3 separate regions of the Homo sapiens genome follow, and all the other regions are linked to region 1. The links come from fine-mapping of genetic effects on gene expression. A gene starts in region 1. Each other region holds a variant in brackets. All regions are shown on one strand. Distances are from middle to middle.

Region 1 (7,134 bases):
GGCAGTGTATGGTGGGTGCAGTGGGCCTCTCTGCCACACACATTAAACACTGGTTTGCCCTTTTTATTCCCTGTGCACTCCCTGTGGGATGGCTGCTTCTCCGTGGTTTCAACCCCATCTACACTCTGATGACTCCCAGGTCTTTCCCAGGATGAAGGCATAACCAGCTTCCTGCCACTCACAGGACACGCTCAGTGAGGCCCACGCTGGGTCCATCATTTTCTCCACTGCCCTGTTCTTGGAAGGGGCCTCCTCACCTGCCCAATCATTCATGTCAATGGCTGGCCTTCAGCTTTCACCCACATCTTCATCCACAGCGTCCAGTTAATTTCCAAGTTCTACCATTTTCAACTCTAAGTATTTCCTACATCCATCTCCTCCTCTTCAGCTCTCTTGCCAGCACCCTAGATGGGCTTGGTCAAGAGCTCCTTCCCAGAGTCAGTGCAACAGCCTCCTCCTGGGCTGCTTCCTGTCTCCATCTTACTATCCTCAAAGCCATCCTCTAAACAGAAATCTAACCCAGTCACACCCTGCTGCAAATGCTTCCATGGTTCTCCAATCATCCACCCATCCATCCATCTGTTCATCCATCCATTCAAACATCCATCATCCATTCATCCATCCGTCCACCCAAGTATTCATTCATACAGCAAATACTCACCGAGTGTCTATTATATGGAAGGCACAACACTAGACACTGGCCCCTAGTAACAAGTGGTTTTTAGTCCTAAGGCGGAGGAGAGAAGATAAGTGAAACAAGCTCACAAAGAGAGCGCAGGGTTTTGTGAGGATTCACGGGTGGGGGCCTCACCCTGTCAGGAAAGGCCTTCCTGAGCATCGGCAGTTACAGTAAGATCAGAAGAAAGAGGAAGTGCTGCCGAAGCAGAGGAGAGTTTCTACCTGTGGAAAATGTGTGGAAACAGACGAAATGCAAGAGGAAGAGAAGGGGCAGCTCTGCGGAACTGAAAGTAGGTTGGTGTGACTGGATCTAAATAAGAGGTAGGCAGGGCGAGAGAGGAAACAGTGTGAAGCTGTAGAACTGGCAAGTAATTACAAGGGAGGTGGGGAACAACCAGGGGCAAATTGGAGATTTTTCTTGGTGCCTGGTCCTTATAGCCTCCCCAGAATTATTTGTTGGATGGATGGTGGAGAGGTGGGAGGGTGAATGAGTAAATGGAGGGATAGGGGTAGCCAGATAGATGGATGACTGGATGGCTGGATAGATGGATATATGGGCAGCTGGAGAGGTGAGTGGATAGATGGGTGGGTGGATGGATAAGTGGATGGGTGAATGTGTAAATGGATGCATGGGTGAGGGGTAGAGGGATAGAGGGATGAGTGAATGGGTGGACAGACGGACGTATGGGTGGGTGGATAGGTGAGCTGATGGAAGGGTGGGTGGGTGGGTGGGTGGGTGGCTAAGTGGATGGGTGAATGTGTAAATGGATGCACAGGTGAGGGGAAGATGGATAGATGGATGAGGGAATGGGTGGCAGATGGATTATGGGTGGGTGGATAGGTGAGTAGGTGAGTAGGTGAGTGAGTGGATAGGTAAGTGGTGGGGGGTTGAGGCTGGGTGCTGGGACAGTGAGGATATCATTAATAGAAACAGGAAAGTGAGGAGGAGGAATCACCGTGGTCCCCTCTCTGCTCAGCCTGCCTGAGCTGGTCTGAGGGTCCTGATTTTTCACCAGTGCCTTCCCTTCTACTGTTCCCTGAGGACAGGCACCCCCAGATGGAAACTCTGACTTGCCCTCTACCTCATCTCCACAGGAACCTTCCTCCTCAAAAATCAAAGAACACAGTGGATGCGAAAATATTCCATAAATGGAAAAACGTAGATGTAGAGAAGAACTAAGCCACATCTGTCGAGGGCCCTGCACTTGCCAGGCAAGTTTCTGAATGTCTGTTCTCTCTTTCAACACCACTCTCATCAGCTCCCACTTTACAGATAAAGAAACTGAGGCTCAGAGAGATGAACCAACCTGCTGAAGTCTCTGCAGTTGAGATGCGGCAGGCCAGGTCTGGAACTCGGACTGGTCCATACTTTCCTTCATGCTGTGCTGACTATCATGATCATCCCAGAACCACCACCCTCAAGCCCCCAGCTCAGCCAAGCTCCAGTCCTCACAGATGCTGCAGCAATGGCCACCAGGCTTGGTCCTGGCCTGGCCCCTTCACCTGGACTATGCTTTAGCAGGTCAACCATGTTTTCAACGCCCACTGAGGAAAACCAGCCACGTGGCCAGTCCGTAGTTTGGGAAGGCATTGGAGAAAAGAATCAAAATAACACTTTATTACCCAGCTAAAAAATTGAGAAAAACTATAGAGTGACTCAACGCCTGAAAGCAAATCTTTAGCAAATGCAAATCAGCATAGAGGTCTCTGAGGACTTTAATGACCAAGAGAAATTAAGCTCCCAACAGGAAGGAAAGGCCTCTCTGACTAAGCTAGGAGTCTCTTGCATGTCCCAAGTCAGAAGGCGGAGGTGCCTAAATGCTGGATTCCAGCTGGCACATAAATAGTGATCTAACTCGCCCCCCCTTTCGTGCAGCACACACCGGCACGCACACAGACAGTTACTCATGGTGCCAGGGCTGCTCACGGAACCCCAAACCCACAAGAGCTGGGGAGTTTCCCCAGGGCCCAGCTTCCTTTTCCTTCAGTTGGCCAAACCTCTGCATGCTTTAAGCAAGGCTGTTTCATTTTCTGAAAGTGCTTTATTTTTCCCTCTGAGGAGAGGGGAAACATCAGGATGCATTTTTCCTTAGTCCCCATTTTCCCCCCAGATCGCCTCACTCCAGCAACAACGTGGACCATAGCATCTCACTTCTAGAACCCTTGTCACTGTTTCAAAGGTCAGTCCCATCTGGGCCCACGAAGTCCCTGTGAGTCAGGTGGGCTGGCATTGCTAAGCCATTTCTCAGAACCTGAAGCCCAGAGAGGCTAATGCAGGGAGGCTCAAACTCACACAGTCAGTTGGGGTGGATCTGAATCCAGAACCCACGTGTCTAGGCACCAACTTGCTGCCTTTGAGCTTTTTGGATCACAAGCAATAGCAAGAAATACACCTGACATCGCGACCCAGAACACAGACACACACACACACACACACACACACACACACACACACATCTGTACAAAGCAACAAACTTCCCCAAAGCAATACTTACCCTACTTCTTGCCACGCACTCTGATCATTTCTATTCTATTTCAATTTTTTAAATGCAGGTCATGAGCTATGAAGTTGATTTACTGACCCATGAATGGGTCACAACCCGCAGTTTGGAAACAGCTGGATGGACCCCCACCTGTGCTTTCCAGCTTCTCCTAGAGCCTCAGGGCCCCAGGAAGGCAGTGTGGTCTCTGCAACCAGGTGAGGAGCAGGCAGCTGCTGAAATCAGGATGGAGGGAGTCCTCTGAGGGGGGACTCTGAAACGAGTCCTCTCTGACTCTGCCTGCCCCAGCTAGGCTCTGCCTTCAAACCTCAAACAGCTGGGCTTCCTGCAGAGGCTCTGCAGGAGCCTGGGCACCCTTGCAGCCACGATCCCAGCTCTCCCTCCAGCGACTTCCCGCAGCCTGAACCTCCCAGCTCCGGCTAGAAAATCCCCAGCTGGAGGCTGCCCATTCCCGAGCTGAGGCAGAATCATGTGAACTCCAATCTGGTGTCAGGCTGGGCGGTTGCCGAGGAACCACTCGCCAGCCAGAGGCTGAGGGCGGCGGAATGGCTCTCTCCACGCATCTTCCTCTGCTCTCCATGCAACCCAGAGTCAGTGAGCAGCCTCGCTGGGAATGTGAAAGCCTGAGCTAGGGGCAGGTGCCCTCAGGACTGTGGTGGGGGGATACAGGAGGAGGGGGTGGGCTAATTCTAGCCACCTTTCAGCACCTACAGGATACCGGGATCCAGGCAAGGGTGGGGGAAGCCGCCAACATCTGGGTCACTGGGGCTCAACCCTGGCCATGTGCATGAGAACATACCTGGGAGCCTACAAAAAAAATACCAATGCCCGGGCCCCACCCGGGGCTGGTTAAATCATGTTTCCTGGAAGTGACGTGCCAGCATCAGTGGCTCTAAAGCTCCCTGGACTGTTCTAAAGTGCAGTGAAGGTGGGCAGCCACGGATGTGGTGAAGCAGGTAGGATCCTGTTTGGCAGAGCAGCAGAGCGAAGGCAGTGGAGCTAAGGCTCTGGGCATCAGTAAGGATAGGGCGGGCATCAATGTTTTCAACTGTGTCGGTCCCCAGAGAAGGAATCAAGCCCAGGGCTCTGGCCCCGGGGGCCCTTCTGGCTCTCAGGAGCACTTACTAAACTCCCTCCCTCACACACATAACACGGAGGATGGAAAGGCCCAGCATTTTGGCGTAACCACCTCCCTCCAAGGCAGACTCCTTGGAAGCTGATTATAAGCTACGTTGCCAGAGCCAGGAAGCCAACAGATACGGTGCATGGGGCCACTGGGGGTGCGAGTCCTTCCTGCTGGAAGTGGCCAGAGCCCTGTGCTTGGTCCCTGCTCTGGGGACCAACACAGTTTAAAACACTGATGCCCATCTTATTCATGCCAAGAGCCTTGGCTCCACTGCCCTCACTCTGTTGGTAGGGGGTCTAAGGAAATCCCCTTCAGTGGGGCCTGGGCCCTCCAAGCAAATGCTACCACATAGCAGGCCTTTTAAAAACTATTTCCGGCCAGGTGCGGTGGCTCACGCCTGGAATCCTAGCACTTTGGGAAGCCGAGGCGGGTGGATCACCTGAGGTCAGGAGTTGGAGACCGGCCTGGTCAACATGGTGAAACCCCATCTCTATTAAAAATACAAAAATTTGCTGGGGGTGGTGGCGCATGCCTGTAATCCTAGCTACTCGGGAAGCTGAGGCAGGAGAATCACTTGAACCTGGGAGGCAGAGGTTGCGGTGAGCTGAGATCATGCCATTGCACTCCAGACTGGGCGACAAAAGCGAAACTCCGTCTCAAAAAAAAAAAAGTTTCCTACGTCAGTTGCTTCTTGCAGGCCTTATGTTACGAGCAAAGGCTTCAGCTTGTTGTGGTGCAGTAGCGTGCATTTAGACACACGTGCTACTTCTGAGTTGCGGAAGTGTGGCTGGCTTTCCCTGATGTCATATAGGAGGACGCGGGGTTAGGAGCACAGAACTGACTTAGCAGTGACTGCCTGGCTTACCCCTAGGACACAACCTGCCAGAGAGAGCACCTCTGGCCCTCTACGGGGTGGCCTGTCCTAACAGGGTGTGCACACACCGGCCGTCTACACCATCATCGTCTATACCTGCAGGAACCACTAATGGCATGGTGTCCCCTCCCGCCTCCAGCCCTGCCAGGGGCTGGCAAGCTGCCCCAGCCCCTCTGCTGGCAGCATGTGCCCTACTGCACCTGGAGTAAGGACCATGCCTTTGGGATGAAGGAGGGGTGAAACTTTCTTTGGTTTTACTCAAATTGGCTGAGCCCAGGTCTTTGTGAAATGCTAGCTCAGTAAGAGAAAAAAGAGCCCATGCTCTCTCATGTGCTTGGCCCTCAAGGAGTTAGAAAATAGCCTGGAGTGGCTCAGTGCCAAGAGCTCCCTTTACCATTTCCTGAGCATTTGCTTTGCACCAGGTGCTGTGCCCATCCTTTGTTTAATCCTTATATCAACTCTGTGTGGCAGGGATTATCCTGTTGCCCAGGCTGGAGTGCAGTGGTACCACCTCCACTCACTGCAACCTCCACCTCCTGGGTTCAAGCAATTTTCCTGCCTCAGCCTCCCAAGGAGCTAGGATTACAGGCATGCGCCACCACACCAGGCTAACTTTTTTTTTTTTTTTTTTTTTTTGAGATTCGCTCTTGTTGCCCAGTCTGGAGTGCAATGGCGTGATCTCGGCTCACGGCAACTTCCACCTGCCAGGTTCAAGCTATTCTCCTGCCTCAGCCTCCTGAGTAGCTGGGATTACAGGCATGTGTCACTATGCCTGGCTAATTTTGTATTTTTAGTAGAGATGGGATTTCTCCATGTTGGTCAGGCTGGTCTTGAACTCTCGACCTCAGGTGATCCGCCCACCTCGGCTTCCCAAAGTGCTGGGATTACAGGCGTGAGCCACCACACCTGGCCCTAATTTTTGTATTTTTAGTAGCGATGGGGTTTTGCCATGTTGGCCAGGCTGGTCTCAAACTACTGGCCTCAAGTGATCCACCTGTCTTGGCTTCCCAGAGTACTCAGATTACAGGCGTGAGCCACCGTGGCTGGCTGAAACAACATCGATTTCTTATCTTGCAGTTTTGGAGGTCAAAAGCATGACATCGATCTTACTGGCTAAAATCAAAACTGCAGTCTGCAGGGCCGCATTCTTTCTTGAGGCTCTAAAATCCATTTCCTTGTCTTTCCAGCTTCTAGAGACTTCTAGCATACTTTGGCTTGTGGCATCTTCCATCTTCAAAGCCTACAGCAGTCAACTGAGTCCTTCTCACATCACATCTCCTCTTCTGACTCTCATGTTCCCTCTTCCACTTCAAAGGGTCCTTGCTTGTGACAATGCTGGATCACTCCTTACTTTAAGGTCAGCTGATTAGGAGTCTTAATTCCACCTGCTGCCTTAATCTCCCTTTGCCACGTAAGGTAACGCAGTGGCAGGTTCTGGGGATTAAGAACTGGGCCTCTTTAGAGAGGGCATTATTCTGCCTCCCACACCCACCTTGTGATACTTACTTAAAACCCTGTATAGTGCTGGCTGGGTGAGGTGACTCATGCCTATAATCCCAGTACTTTCGGAGGCTGAGACGGGTGGATTGCTTGACTCAGGGTTTGAGACCAATCTGGGCAACATGGTGAAACCCCGTCTCTACAAAAAATACAAAAAATTGGTGGGTGCAGTGGCATGTGCCTGTAGTCCCAGCTACTCAGGGGGCTGAGGCTGGGGAATTGCTTGAGCCCAGAAGGTGGAGGTTGCAGTGAGCCGAGATCACACTTGGGCGACTAGAGTGAAACCATGTGTCAAGCAAAACAAAACAAAACAAAAACCCTGTACAGCGCTGCTTCTCGAATGTTAGTGTGCATGTATTATACATCTCCCAGGAATCTTGTTAGTGTATCTTCTGGTTCAGTTCAGTAGGTCTGGGGTAGGGCCCGAGATTCTTCCCTTCTTTTTTTTTTGAGAT
Region 2 (7,134 bases), 20 kb after region 1:
TGTAGTCCCAGCTACTTGGGAGGTTGAGGCATGAGAATCGCTTGAACCCGGGAGGCAGAGGTTGCAGTGAGCCGAGATCGTGTCACTGTACTCCAGTCTGGGCAACAGAGCAAGACTCTGTCTGTTAAAAAAAAAAAAAAAAAAAGATGACTGGATTCTAATCCCTGGTACCTGTGAACATGTTACCTTACACATTAAATGGACTTTGCAAATGTGATAGAGATTTTGAGATGGGGAGATGATCCTGGGTTATCAAAGTGGACCCAGTGTCATCACAAGGGTGGAAACAGGAGGCAGAAGAGAAACTTTGAGTGATGTAGAGAGGGAAGGGCTCCGCCATCCACTGTCAGCTTTAAAGATGGGAGGGGCCGCAAGCCAAGAAATGCAGGCAGGCCTGAGACGCTGAAAAAGGCAAGGAAATGGAGTCTCCCCTGGACCTCCACAAAGGACCTGGCTGGCCCTGCCAACACCTTAGTTTTAGCCCCGTGAGACTCTATTCTGTCCTCTAGAATTCTAAAATAATGAATGTGTGTTGTTTTAAGATACTAAGTTAGTTGGTGGTAATTTGTTCCATAGCAACAGGAAACTAACACAGCTGTTGAGACCCAACACAGCTCTGTACTTGGAGGCTGGACCATGTGGAGTCACTCCTCAGTGTTTCCTGAGCACCTGTGGTTTAAGTGTCACCCACAGCCCCTGCCCTCTGGAGGTGTGGGGAACACACCAGACCATGGAACTGAATGTGCCCTGGGTATGCGTATTGCCAGCGATGGAATATTCTGGGGCAAGAGGGCTTAGGGTGGATCCGTTGGTTTAAAAAGGCCTCTGGAGAAGCCGGACCCCTGGCAGGGCCTTGAAGGATGGAGGGTTTGGATAAGGACAGGGAGGAGGGCAGGGAGAAGGAAAGAAAGGCATAATTGGAAGTCAGGGAGGCTCACTCAGTTATTCATTCATTATTCGTTCATCAGCTCATTTAACACCTGTGCTCTAGGCTGTGGGGCCAGGGTGGAGCCGGTGCCAGGACAGTGAGGTGAACAAGATAGACCTAGTGGTTGTTCTTTTTTTTTTTTTTTTTTTGGGGATAGAGTTTTGCTCTTGTTGCCCAGGCTGGAGTGCAATGGCATGATCTTGGCTCACCGCAACCTCTGCCTCCCAGGTTCAATCAATTCTCCTGCCTCAGCCTCCCAAGTAGCTGGATTACAGGCATGTGCCACCACGCCCAGCTAATTTTGTATTTTTAGTAGGGACGGGGTTTCACCATGTTGGTCAGGCTGGTCTTGAACTCCTGACCTCAGGTGATCCGCCCGCCTCAGCCTCCCAAAGTGCTGGGATTACAGGCGTGAGCCACCGCAACTGGCTCTAGTGGTTGTTCTTATGAAATTTATACTCAGGAGTGGAAGACAATATGCCATTGCAATGAAACATGGCAAGCGTTACAGCAGGAGAGGTTTAGCTTGTGAAGGGGCACATCAGGGTGGACTTCCTGGAAGAAGTAGCCCTTTAGTTGATAACAAGATTAACTGAAGGTTTGTTTTATATCACTCCAGGCACTGCTGGGCTCTCTGCACTCAGCAGGTGCTGACTGAAGGAGTCAGTGATTATTTTTGTTATTCCCGTCAGAGCCGTTTTTTTTTTTTTTTTTTGAGATGGAGTTTTGCTCTGTCACCCAGGCTGGAGTGCAGTGACGCAATCTCTGCTCACTACAACCTCTGCCTCCTGGGTTCAAGCAATTCTCCTGCCTCATCTCTAGAGTAGCTGGGATTACAGACGTGCACCACCATGCCCGGCTAACTTTTGTATTTTCAGTAGAGACGGGGGTTTCACCGTGTTTGGCCAGGCTGGTCTCGAACTCCTGACCTCAAGTGATCCACTCCCAAAGCTGGGATTACAGGCGTGAGCCACCACACCCGGTCCCAATCCTTTCTTAATCTGTCTTATTACACTAAGGAGAAAGCCTCACATGGGTGCTTTAACACCACTCTCATTCTTGCTCATCTCCTTTTTTAGCCTAGAGAGCAGGCCTCAGGTATGTTCACAGGTGCTAAAGTTTAATAACACTTCTGCCTAGTCCCTCACTTTTATTTGTTTAATTACCTTCTTTTTGTGGCAAGGGGTACTGATTTTCTATTTCTGGAAGTAGATTGTAATTTCTTTTTAAAAAATAATATATTTGTGTAATAGAACCAAGAGTGGGATTTTCCCCCTTGCCTTGGAATTGACCACTGGGTCTAGGTCCTCTTTAGTGGTGGGGCCTGACTCCACTCCCTAATCAGGACTTCCACCAACAGCAGCCCCCTCCACCTTGCAATCTCCACCCCCCAACACACACTGTCAGTACGGGGCAGCGGGGAGGGGCGGGGCGGGGAGTAGAACTGGGGTTAGAGGGAGAGCATTTGGAGGCTGAGAGTCTTCGAGAGCTGGAAGTGGAGCTACTTTCTTTAGAAGGTGGGTTACTATCTGCTCTCTCTCCTCAGTCAGGAGCCCCAGGGGTCAATCAGAGGTAACAGAATTTGTACCACAGGGGCCTGGAAATGATGAACTCTGCCCAGGAAATTGAGGAGCACAGACGGAATCTGAAAATAGTGATGGTAAGACATAAGTTTCGAGTTTCCATTTTTTGAGTGGAGGTCCTGCGGTAATCCAGCTCCCAAGGTAAAATATTCAAATAAAAACATGATGTATATACTAGACATGGAACTTGAGGGGGCTGAGATTTTTTGAAACTGGTTAGAAGGGAAAACCAGGATGAATACAGCAAGAACAACATTCTGATAACAGCTATGATTGGAGGATAATGGGCAGGGAGGAGCCACGCCTCAGGAGCCAAAGTAAAAAGCACCTGGTCTGGAGGGCGGGAAGTCAGGGAAGCCTTCCTGGAAGAGGTGATTCTGAACTGAAACCCAAAAGTGACTAAGAGGTATCCTAGGACTTCTCTCAGTGACTGGTGTGTGTGATGCTGTGGATACAGAAGGGGCCCTTGAATGTTGATGGTGGGGGCTCACTGGCCCAGGAGTGTATTGCTGGGGGCCACTTAGTTTGATTTTGATCATCTTGGGCAAGAAGGAGAAGCAGTGCAGACCTCCCATCGGTAACTCTGAATTATAGTCTGTCTCCCATGTAGCGTGCGGTCGCTCTGAATTACAGTCTGTCTCCCATGTAAAGTGTGAATTACATGGGCAGTGACCAGCTCCCTCCAGCTCAGGCCAAAGCCCAGCAGAGTGCCCGTTTTGCTGAATAAATGAATGAGGGAAGATGGAAGGATAAAACGAGGCAGTTAAATAATGTGTGAGAAGTACCTGGCACCAGGCGGGCATTCAGTAAATATTAGTGTGCCCCTCCCTCCTCCTTTCGCCTCTCTCCTCTCTCTGGGCCCGGGTGGAATAGCATTTCCCCAGCTTTAAGAGTTGCCACGGAGCCCAGACCTCCCGCCTGGGCCCGGGTCCTTGGACTCCTCCCGTAGTGTTCCTCTCGGTGCCTCAGCTGCAGCTGACCTGTGAAAGGTCATGTCCTCATTGGGTCTGGACAGTGCTGGACTTTTGAGATCTGCCCCCACTCCAGGAACCCTGGGCAAGGGAGCCCCTCTGGCCTGCCGTCCCCCTAGACGCCACTCCATGACACCCTCAGGGTGGGAAGTCCCTGGGCCCCAAGAGCCCCATCCATTTGTATCCTATCCTAGCACAGAGACCTACCCCAGTCCTTCTCCTGCTCCACTTCCCCCGAAGGCCTTTATTCCACAGATTGGATTTGAATTTTCCGCCCCGGTAGCTGGCGGGGAGCCGGCCTCGCTGAAGGTCAGCCGTTCCCGGGTGCGTCCCCGCGCTGGCGCCGCCGTCAACCCTCGCCCCGGCCGCCCGGCGCACTCACCTCTGTCGGGTCCCGGGTGCAGGAAGCGCGGCCGCGGTTCGGCTGGGCCCGCGGGAGGGAGTGGCCGCGGGGACGGCGCCTGCGGGGCGTGGCGGGACCGGCGCGGAGCTCGCCGTGCGGGGTCCTCGGGCGGGAGGCGGAGGCTCCGCCGCCCACCCCGCCACGGGGACAGAGTCCAGGCCCCGCCGGACACCAGGGCACCTGC[A/AC]CCCCCACCGGCCTGGGGAGGGTGCGGCTGCCAGGACAGCTCCTAGGGCACCTCCCTCCCCCCGGGGCTCGAGGGGCCCAGGTTTCCCTCCCTGCGGCCGGGCTGGCTGGATCCCTGCCCCTATCTATTTGTGGTCTCTTTGTGGGAAGGGAGATGGGGAGCAGGTAGCTGGTTCTGCCTCTGCTCTCAGATGTGACACGATGAACCCAACTTCGTGGGGCTGGGCCAAAAGGCCGGAGCTTGGAGAGGGGACATTTCTGCGCTTGACTTCGGGCTATGGACTCTGCCCGGTGGAGACCATTGTACCCCATACGGATGGAGAGGTGACGGGCTTGCCCCCGGGCCTGGGGTCTGTCATTCCCCTGGCGGACTCTTTCTGCTGTCTCTGGAGAAGGGCAAGGAGGGAGGGTGGAAGGTGAGAGAGAAGCCGGGACAGAGTTTCCCAGCCTCCAGACAAGCCCGAGTGGCCATTCTCTGTGCCTTGTGCGGGAAAACCACGTCTCTCAAACCTAGGCTCTTCCAGGGCTGAGTTTGGGGCCAGCTGAGTCTGAGGCGGCTGGGTTGTTCTGCTCTGAGCCTGCTACTGGGCCTGCCTCAGCAGACCTTTGGAATCGGATCCCTGTGGCCATCCTGCACACCTGGTACCCCTCTCCCTGAGGCCTTTCATGGGGCTGGGAGGGCAGAAATGAGAGGGAAATGGCCTAGGAGACAGCCAGCGGCTGGCATAGCTGCGTACACCTTAGGACGGTCAGCTCCGCAAAGCCCCTAGCTTCTCTTCTCTTCTCGTTCCTTCTTCACCTTTGGTTATTTCTGCTCAATCATTCAGACTCTTCCCCTGCAGCCCATCCCTAAGAGGTGGTGCTCCCTGTGCCAAGCCGACCTGTGCTGGCTTGTGAAAGCACATCTGTGAATTTCCAGGAATTTTGCAAGCCAGTTGTTCAGCACAGCCATTATTAACAATTAACTTATGTAAACCTACCATCGAGTAACTTACATGAAAAGCAAAGGTAACACTCAAGACTCCCCACTTCCTAATTATTTTACTTTTGCCCATGCTTTCAGGTTACACCTATTGTATCTGTATGGTGGTGATATTATACCATGAGGTGCATCTCTTTCTGGTGAAGGAAATCCCAAAATATTTCACCCCAAAATATGGCTCCCTGGTATAGTGAGTATTTTGAATTCAACACCCTTAGAGATCAATAAACTGGAAGAAACTTTCCCCCTTCTACAAAAAGAAAGGACTGAATCACCAAGGAGAACAGTTGTTCTTGTTCGCCCGTTATCTCATTACCCTTCACAGCAAAGAAGACCCAGAATGTAACCACATCTGAACAGACTCTTTCAAGACAGTGACTGTTGCCAAGGATCATATAAATTCCAAAGAATTTTACAAGTTACTTTCTGTTCCCCATCCAATCGTTCTCCCTAGTAATCATTTATAATCCCTCAATAGAATTCTTCTCCCTCTCCCATAAGCCCCCATTCTGTCTGTAACCTCGAGGTAGTATATAAGTTTCTGGACTTCACTGGAGGGGGTCTAGTCTTTATTCTGAAGGCTGTCATGTATACCTGTTAAGAATGATAGAGAAGATGTCTTGGGTGAATATTATGATATATAAATTATATCTCGATTTTTAAAAAATTGAGGCCAGGCACAGTGGCTCACAACTGTACAGTCTCGGCACTTTGGGAGGCCGGGGCGGGTGGATCATGAGGTCAGGAGTTCAAGACCAGCCTGGCCAAGATGGTGAAACCCCGTCTCTACTAAAAACAGAAAAATTAGCCCGGCGTAGTGGCGGGCGCCTGTAATCCCAGCTATTCAGGAGGCTGAGGCAGAGAATTGCTTGAACCCAGGAGGCGGAGGTTGCAATGAGCCGAGATCGTGCCACTGTACTCCCGCCTGGGCGACGAGTGAGACTCCATCTCAAAAAAATAAATAATAAAAACTGAGATTTTTTAATCTCAAAGATTGAGATCAGTTCCGTGTTAAGTGATGTGTTCAGTGCTGGCAGCTTGATGTTGGCCATGGTGAGAGTACTTATAGCACAGAAATTGGTAAATGTTATAAACTTGGGCTTGATTTATATATTTTTTCATTGTCTAGTGTCTCTAGACTTAAAAAAAATAGAGAAGATGCCTTGGGTCAATATTATGGTATGTAAATTATATCTCAATTTTTAAAAAAGTGTGTTGCATCTGTAGCCATTATAATAGGAATAGTACAAAAAATTGAGGAAATATTTGTTCAGCATTCAGAAACTACCACTTGATTAAACAAAGTTACTCATGTTTTCAGTGAAGTTCTGACATACATCTTTGACTTGTTTCCCTTTCATCTTACATGTTAACGTGAAAGAAATTATCAACCACATTTGTGTTGAAGCTATGCTCATTTGTCAGTTGCAAGCCTAGGTTGGCTACAAATACACCAGCAAAAAAATCAATGAGCTTTCTGCAAGAATCAATTGGTTGTATGGATTTTACAATAATTGTTATTGTATGTTTTATTATTTATAAATTGTTACTGATGATAAAGAGTCAAACTCTGGCCAGGTGTGGTGGCTGACACCTGCAATCCTGACACTTTGGGAGGCCAAGGTCGAGGGATCACTTGAGGTCAGGAGTTTGAGACCAGCCTGGGCAATGTAGCAAGACCCCGTCTCTACAAAAAATAAAAAATTAGCCAGGTGTGGTGGCATGTGCCTGTAGTCCCAGCTACTCAGGAGGCTGAGGCAGGAGGATCACTTGAGGTTGCAGTGAGCCATAGTCATACTACTGTACTCCAGCCTGAGGGACAGCGTAAGACCCTGTCTCAGAAGGAAAAAAAAGCATATCCAGCTGCAACTTGGGTATTTCCCAGCCACCAGGTCACACACCACACCAACGCAGAGGGTGGGGCCCTGGAACTCAGGAGGGGGCGTGATCCAGGGTGCTCTCTTAGCCACAGGATCCCATGGTACTGCTGAAGGGGGCTGTGGCTTGGGATTGGCTGTGGAGGTGAGCAGGGTCTTAGCGTTGAAAGCAGCTGATGGAGTAACAGGACCACGGGGGAGAGTGAG
Region 3 (5,812 bases), 28 kb after region 1:
AAGTTGCCTCTGGATTAGCGACCTTGACAGGAGCTCTCCCGCAGGACCAGTGGGACCAAAAGCCGGCTGGAGTGGATGGAAGAGTAGGGGGAGAGCCTGAGGCAGCGGGACCAGTCGGCGGGAGGGTGTGAACTAGGGCAGAGACAGCTGGCAGAGGGGAGCGGCCCAGATTCCCACCCCACCCTCAGGTCCAGGATGTGACGTGTGATATGTGGGATGTGAGGAAAGGAGGGGTCCAGCTCGAATCTCAGGCTCCTGAGGCTGCAGAGATGGTCCTGGGAACAGGGGAGCTGGGTTGATGAGGGCAGCAGTCCTGGCCTGAAGGTCAGGAGACGCTGGGCTGGAGGTCACCTCCACAAGCGCTCCCTTTGTAGGGAGGGTGGGGTCAGGCCTGCAGGGGGAATGCACGACAGGAGAGTGGTGGAGGCAGAATCCAGGGCTCTGCCCGCAGCCCTGATGTCCCCGGGAGGGATGAATGAAGGGACGAAGGAGCAGGCAGCACAGAGCTGTCCCAGAGGGACAAAGAAGCGTGCAGCAGAGGCTAAGGGTGCCAAGAAGTGCCTGGCCAGCTGTCAAGTATTGCAAAGGCCACACAGGATGAAGACTGCGGGTGGCCACCGCTCAGTCTGGCTCAAAACAGCATGGATGGCAGTTTCTGTGGAGTGGCCAGATACAAGGACAGATTGCAGAGCCTCGGGGAGAACGGGCAAGGAGGTGAGAGGAGAGAGCCAAAAAATAGGCTTGGTGAGAAGGAAGGAGACACTGAGGCAGCAGCTGGACAGAAAAACATCAGAAGAACCTTGGTCAGGCATGGCCATTTTCATGCCTCCTCCTTCCCTCTCTTCCTCCTCTCCACCATGCATCCGATTTCAGTATCTTCGGCCCCTAAGGTCCAAATTCCAGATCCAGCATTTACTGGTTGAGTAGCCTTGGGAAAATCATAAGGAGCCCCTTCAGGCTGAGCTCCTGTCACGACATGAGATGAACGCCATAGCAAAATGGGGTTCTTCAATTATTTTTGAGATGGGGTCTTGCTGTGTCGCCCAGGCTGGAGTGCAGAGGCACAAGTCCTGGTTCACTGAAGCCTCGACTGCTGGGGCTCAAGTGATCCTCCCGCCTCAGCCTCCATAGTGGCTGGGACTACAGGTGCAAACCACCATACCCCGCTATTTTATTTTTTGTTTGAGACAGGGCCTCACTCTGTCTCCCAGGCTAGAGTGCAGTGGCACCATCACTGCTCACTGCAGCCTCAACATCCCTGGGCTTAAGGGATCCTCTGTCTTCAGCCTCCCGAGTAGCTGGGACTGCAGGTATACACCACCACGCCTGGCTAATTTTTCTATCTTTTGTAGACAATGTCTTGCTATGTTGCCCAGACTGGTCTCCAGCCCATTGCATGCCCCCTGTGGTGGTGGTGACCCATTAGAAAAACAAATAAAATAGGATTCAATTGATGCCAACTTAAACACACCTGAGGAGGGGTGGAAAGCTGTCACCGTACAGGAAATCTTTGTCCTTCACATCTGTCTCTGGTTGCACGTGTAACAGCTTCCCCCACCTAGTGGCAAGGAAAGTGGTGGATTCCAACTGTGGAGGAAGGGTCGCCGGCATGCAGAGGGAGGGGTGCAGGGGGAGGGGTGCAGAGGGAGGGGCACAGAGGGAGGGGTGGAGGGGCGCAGAGGGAGGGGCGCAGAGGGAGGGGTGGAGGGGCGCAGAGGGAGGGGCACAGAGGGAGCGGTGCAGAGGGAGGGGTGCAGAGGGAGGGGCGCAGAGGGGGGGTGGAGGGGCGCAGGGGGGTGGAGGGGCGCAGGGGGGTGGAGGGGCGCAGGGGTAGGGGTGCAGAGGGAGGGGCACAGGGAGGGGCGCAGAGGGAGGGGTGGAGGGGCGCAGAGGGAGGGGTGCAGGGGCACAGAGGAAGGGGAGCAGAGGGAGGGGTGCATAAGGAGGGGCGCAGGGAGCCCCAAGTCCCCAGGGGCCCACCCGATGCTAACAATGTGCAGTGAGGAAAGCCAGAACGCACTTCGGTTCCATTCCATTTTATTACAGTCCTGTCCTTGAGTTCCAGAATGAATGGCTATTTAATACACAACCCCAAACACTCCTAAAATGGATCTTGTTAACATTCAAAAGTCTCCCATTTCTTTCTCAGTATATTAAATCAAAAGGAAAAAAAAATCTTAAAAAAAAAAAATCAATAGGTTTAGTTCACCCCAGGAAAAGCACCTTTACAACAGGAAACTAAATTGTCAGGAATCTGACCAAAGACACAAAGCAGCAGATAAGATTCCCGACAGAAGAGAGTGACTCCCACTGGAACATAAATAGATCCCCCCAAAGTATACATATTTCACATGAGTGTGTACATATACATGTCATATATTAAAAAAAATTGGTTTCTATACCCAAAAAGTTATTCAGAAATAAATCAACACCCCGAGACCGGGGATGTCGGGTGCCGCAGCCAGGTTACACATCGAGCTTGCACCTCGCTCTGTGCGGATGACCCCTCGGTGCACTGTGCACACTGGCCTGGAGGGGGCTGGATGGGGGCCTCTTTCCTGCCCCCCAATCCCCAGGCCTGGCAGATCCAGTGTTTGCAGAAAAGTGAGCCAGGGAAATCTAGGAAGGCAGGTGCCTGTGTGGTCCCCAAACCCCCTGGTGCAGAGCTCAGGAGCCAGCTGGAGGCTGGGGGCAAATGGCCAAGGCCACCGCCAGCTGCCCTGCAGGCTGCCCTGGGTCCTGGGGTAAAGGGAAGTGCTTGGGACCCCAGGAATGGAACAGCAGCACTCTCACTTTTTAACAGCAGGCCTGACTCTGGGGTCTGCCAGGCCCTGGAGACCTTTGTAGTATCGCCAGTCTGGGCTTCTCCTGGGATCCAGTGGCCTTGGGAGAGGGAGTGGGCTTTCTGACCCGCCAGGCCTGAGCCTCGTAAGCCTGTTGTGTGAGTGTGTGTGTGCTTAACGGAGCTCAACACATTGCAAATGAGTGTTCTACTGGGACATACTGGAGTAGTGTCTGCTTTGGGGGAAGTCAGTTTGTCATTGCATCC[T/G]AATTGGTCCCCATGCTGACGTGGATTATTTGTTCCAAAGATATCAGCTGCTGGAAGCGGCAGACACAGAAAACACGTTACACACCTGGAAGCGTAATCCTCTTGGGGCTTGGCACAGTGTTTCCATTCACAGAACAAACAGCAGAAATGCGTGGGAACCCCTTTCCTCATTCCAAACCCTCTCCTGGCACCGCAGGCAAGCAAGAGAAAAGGCCGTGAGAGTCGGAAGGCGCGTCAGTAGTTTTCAGGTTTGCGAGCTCAACCACGAGACAGTCACACACAGCCGTACTCATACCACACGGTCTGCGGATCCCCGCCGGGCTCCGGGGAGGCCGGACTGCTCTTTGAGACGCTCCCTCGACTGCAGTCCTCCAGGGCCCGGCCGAGGTGGGGAGCCAAATCGGGAGACCGACCTGGGCTCTTGGCCGGAAGCCCCTCACTGCAGCCCTGCCCCGGGACCCCGTCTCCCTCTGAGAGGCTGAGCCCTGCCCGGACAGGGGTGATGGTGGCCACCTCCCCTGAGCGTGGGGGCGCCTTGGGCTTGGTCCTGGCAGCCGGGGCTGCAGCAGGTGAGAAGTGCAGGAGCTGGGAGTTGCTGCCACTGCCAGCAGCAGCAGCACCAGCACCTGCAGTGGCAATGGCGGGGGCTGTGGCAGACTGATGCAGGGGGGCCAGCCTCTCCTCCTTTGGGGGAGCCAGGGAGAAGCGCCTCGTGTCCAGCGGCCGGCTGCGGGGACCTGGGCCCTGACAGGAGCTGCCAGCCTTTCCCACAAGTGGGGTCCGCTCCCGGGCCAGGCTATGGGAGCTGGGGGGTGCGGGGCTTTGCAGGGTGTGGCTGCCTGTCTCTCTGCCCCCTAAGGCCTCAGGAGCCCCCAGCTTCTGAGGGGACTCCTGTTTGCAGGCCTCTGGCCCGCTGGCCCGGAGAAGGTCAGCTGAGGCCAGGCTGAAGGCCCGGCTCAAGGAGGCACTGCGGCTGGCAGGTGCATGGGAAGCTGGGGGCACCGGAGCCTGCCGGGGTCTGCCCAGAGACAGGCTCTGGGGAGGCTGGGCCTGTCTCGGGGCCACGCTGGGTGGGGCCTCGGCCTCAGTCAGTCTGAAGTTTGGCTTTACGTACTGCCCGGGCTTCAGCGGCCTCCCCTCCGAGGTGGGGGCGGCCATTTTGACGGTGGGGGCCACAAAGTTGGTGGGCATCTTGGCCCCTTCTTTCTTGGCAGGTGGTCCTGGTTGGCCTCCGATGGCTGGGGGATCGCTGGCCTTTCGGAAGTAGTCACTCAGCAGGTCATCCCGGCAACTGGGAGTGTCCTACGGAGAAGAGAGTGAAGGTTGGAGGTGGGCATGAGGGTTGGGTGGGTCCTTGGAGCCGCCTCCTGCGCGGGACGCCCCCGAGCAGCCCACGTGGCTGGGACCGCAGTTCCTGCCTGCCTTCTCCGAGGCACATGTGCCGCCTCCACCACACACACCAGCCCTGGGCAGGATGGTGAGGGTGGCTAAGGCAGCATGGGACCACCAGGAAAGAACCCCAGATTCCCCCCAGGCAACCCCCTAACTTTACAGATAAGGAAACAGACCCAGAGAGGGAAATGACTTCCTACAAAGTGAGTAAGTTTCCCAGAAACCTCGACTATAGCCGACTGCTTCGGTCTGTCTGGTTTCCACCAAGCACAGCAGGAACTAGAATGCTGGCGGATATGAGCAGGGCCTTCCTTCCCCGGTCACCCCGGGACATCATAAGGACTTCACCTTGCGCCACCGAGAGCAAGAGGAACAAGAGCAGCTCTTGAAACGCCGGAACCTTCACTGCCACTCAGACCTCTCTCTGGGCCCGAGAAAGAGAAGAGAGAGGCAGAATGGGGATGGGAGGGGGTGGGGGACAGAGAGGTACAAATGGGGTCCGCGAGGGTCCAGAAGGGGGAATGGTGGGGCTGCACAGGGAAATGAAGACACCAGGAAGGCCCAGCCGCCACACTGTCCCTGCTAAGCTGCCGCCCGGGCTGTGCTTCCCCTGCCCAGGGAGCAGGTGTCATTTGCCACCACCTTGGGAATAGGCAGAGCCACAGAGGCAAGGGTCTATGGCCCCACTCAGGAACTGCAGCCTTCTGCAAGCCTAGCTTCTCCTGAGGCTGACATGGATGAAGAGGAAGAGAAGTGAGTTCATGGGGGATGAGAGGCCGGCAGGTGTCAGCCTGAAGGCGGGTTGGTAGCTCAGGAGCCATCTGCACCTGCCAGCAACTCCTGTCCCACACAAACATCTGGACATGGTGCCACTGGACAGAGATACATCTGCTGTTTTATGCTAGTTTGACGCTACACATCTTGGGTGGGCGTCCAGTAAGACCCGTGATATCACAGGTACCTTTCATCACCTGTGGGGCCATGTGCTGTTCTGGGAACCACATGTATAATTGCAAAGAAACTCATTTAATTCTCAAAATGACCTCGCAAGGTTGTTGAAAGGCTGTATCAAGGTAAAGAAACAGGTCACGGAGGTTTGGCAGGCCATGCGTCCAGAGAGGCAGACCCAGATGAAAGCCTATGGCTGCCTGACTCCAGAGCTGCTTTCCACTCCACCAGGCTCCTCCCTGCACACCTCAGAGCCTTTGATACCCACCCTTCCTGGCCACGCAGGGAGCCCCATCTTGTGACATGCCCTCCCTGCATCATCGACGCCCAGAGAGTGGGGGCGCGGTGGGCATACGGTTGTCATTTCCCTGGGATGGGAAGCCCCTGTGTACATTAGGGGCCTTGTGTGTCAGGGGTACCAGG

Alleles and levels. Positions count from the first base shown, and alleles are read on the strand shown. Sizes are in standard deviations (SD) of each study's normalised expression.
In carriers of allele A in region 2, the expression in lung of the gene that starts at base 3,581 in region 1 tends to be lower than with AC alone (small effect, 0.18 SD a copy in GTEx).
In carriers of allele G in region 3, the expression in regulatory T cells of the gene that starts at base 3,581 in region 1 tends to be lower than with T alone (large effect, 0.87 SD a copy in Schmiedel 2018).

Evidence for each region. PIP is the estimated chance that this variant, and not a neighbour inherited with it, causes the effect. A credible set is the group of variants that fine-mapping cannot tell apart.
Region 2: its variant is the best candidate, but not a certain one, in a credible set for the expression of GPR68 in lung (GTEx, PIP 0.76).
Region 3: its variant is the best candidate, but not a certain one, in a credible set for the expression of GPR68 in regulatory T cells (Schmiedel 2018, PIP 0.70).

Annotation. Positions count from the first base shown.
Region 1 is chr14:91,241,124-91,248,257 of GRCh38, forward strand. GPR68 (G protein-coupled receptor 68) reads right to left here and starts at 3,581. Exons shown (of 2, transcript NM_001177676.2): 1 at 3,174-3,581. RefSeq lists enhancers at 2,109-2,218, 3,278-3,779, 3,299-3,348.
Region 2 is chr14:91,260,646-91,267,779 of GRCh38, forward strand. It overlaps a transcript of GPR68 not described here. Among named protein-coding and RNA genes, the nearest start is that of GPR68, 20 kb to the left of the region's middle. RefSeq lists cis regulatory regions at 3,737-4,372, 6,878-7,134 and a silencer at 3,927-3,986. The variant A/AC (reference allele first, on the strand shown) is at 4,070.
Region 3 is chr14:91,269,303-91,275,114 of GRCh38, forward strand. It overlaps CCDC88C (coiled-coil domain containing 88C), which reads right to left. Exons shown (of 30, transcript NM_001080414.4): 30 at 2,021-4,351. The coding sequence ends at 3,323. It also overlaps a transcript of GPR68 not described here. Among named protein-coding and RNA genes, the nearest start is that of GPR68, 28 kb to the left of the region's middle. RefSeq lists a cis regulatory region at 128-406. The variant T/G (reference allele first, on the strand shown) is at 3,050.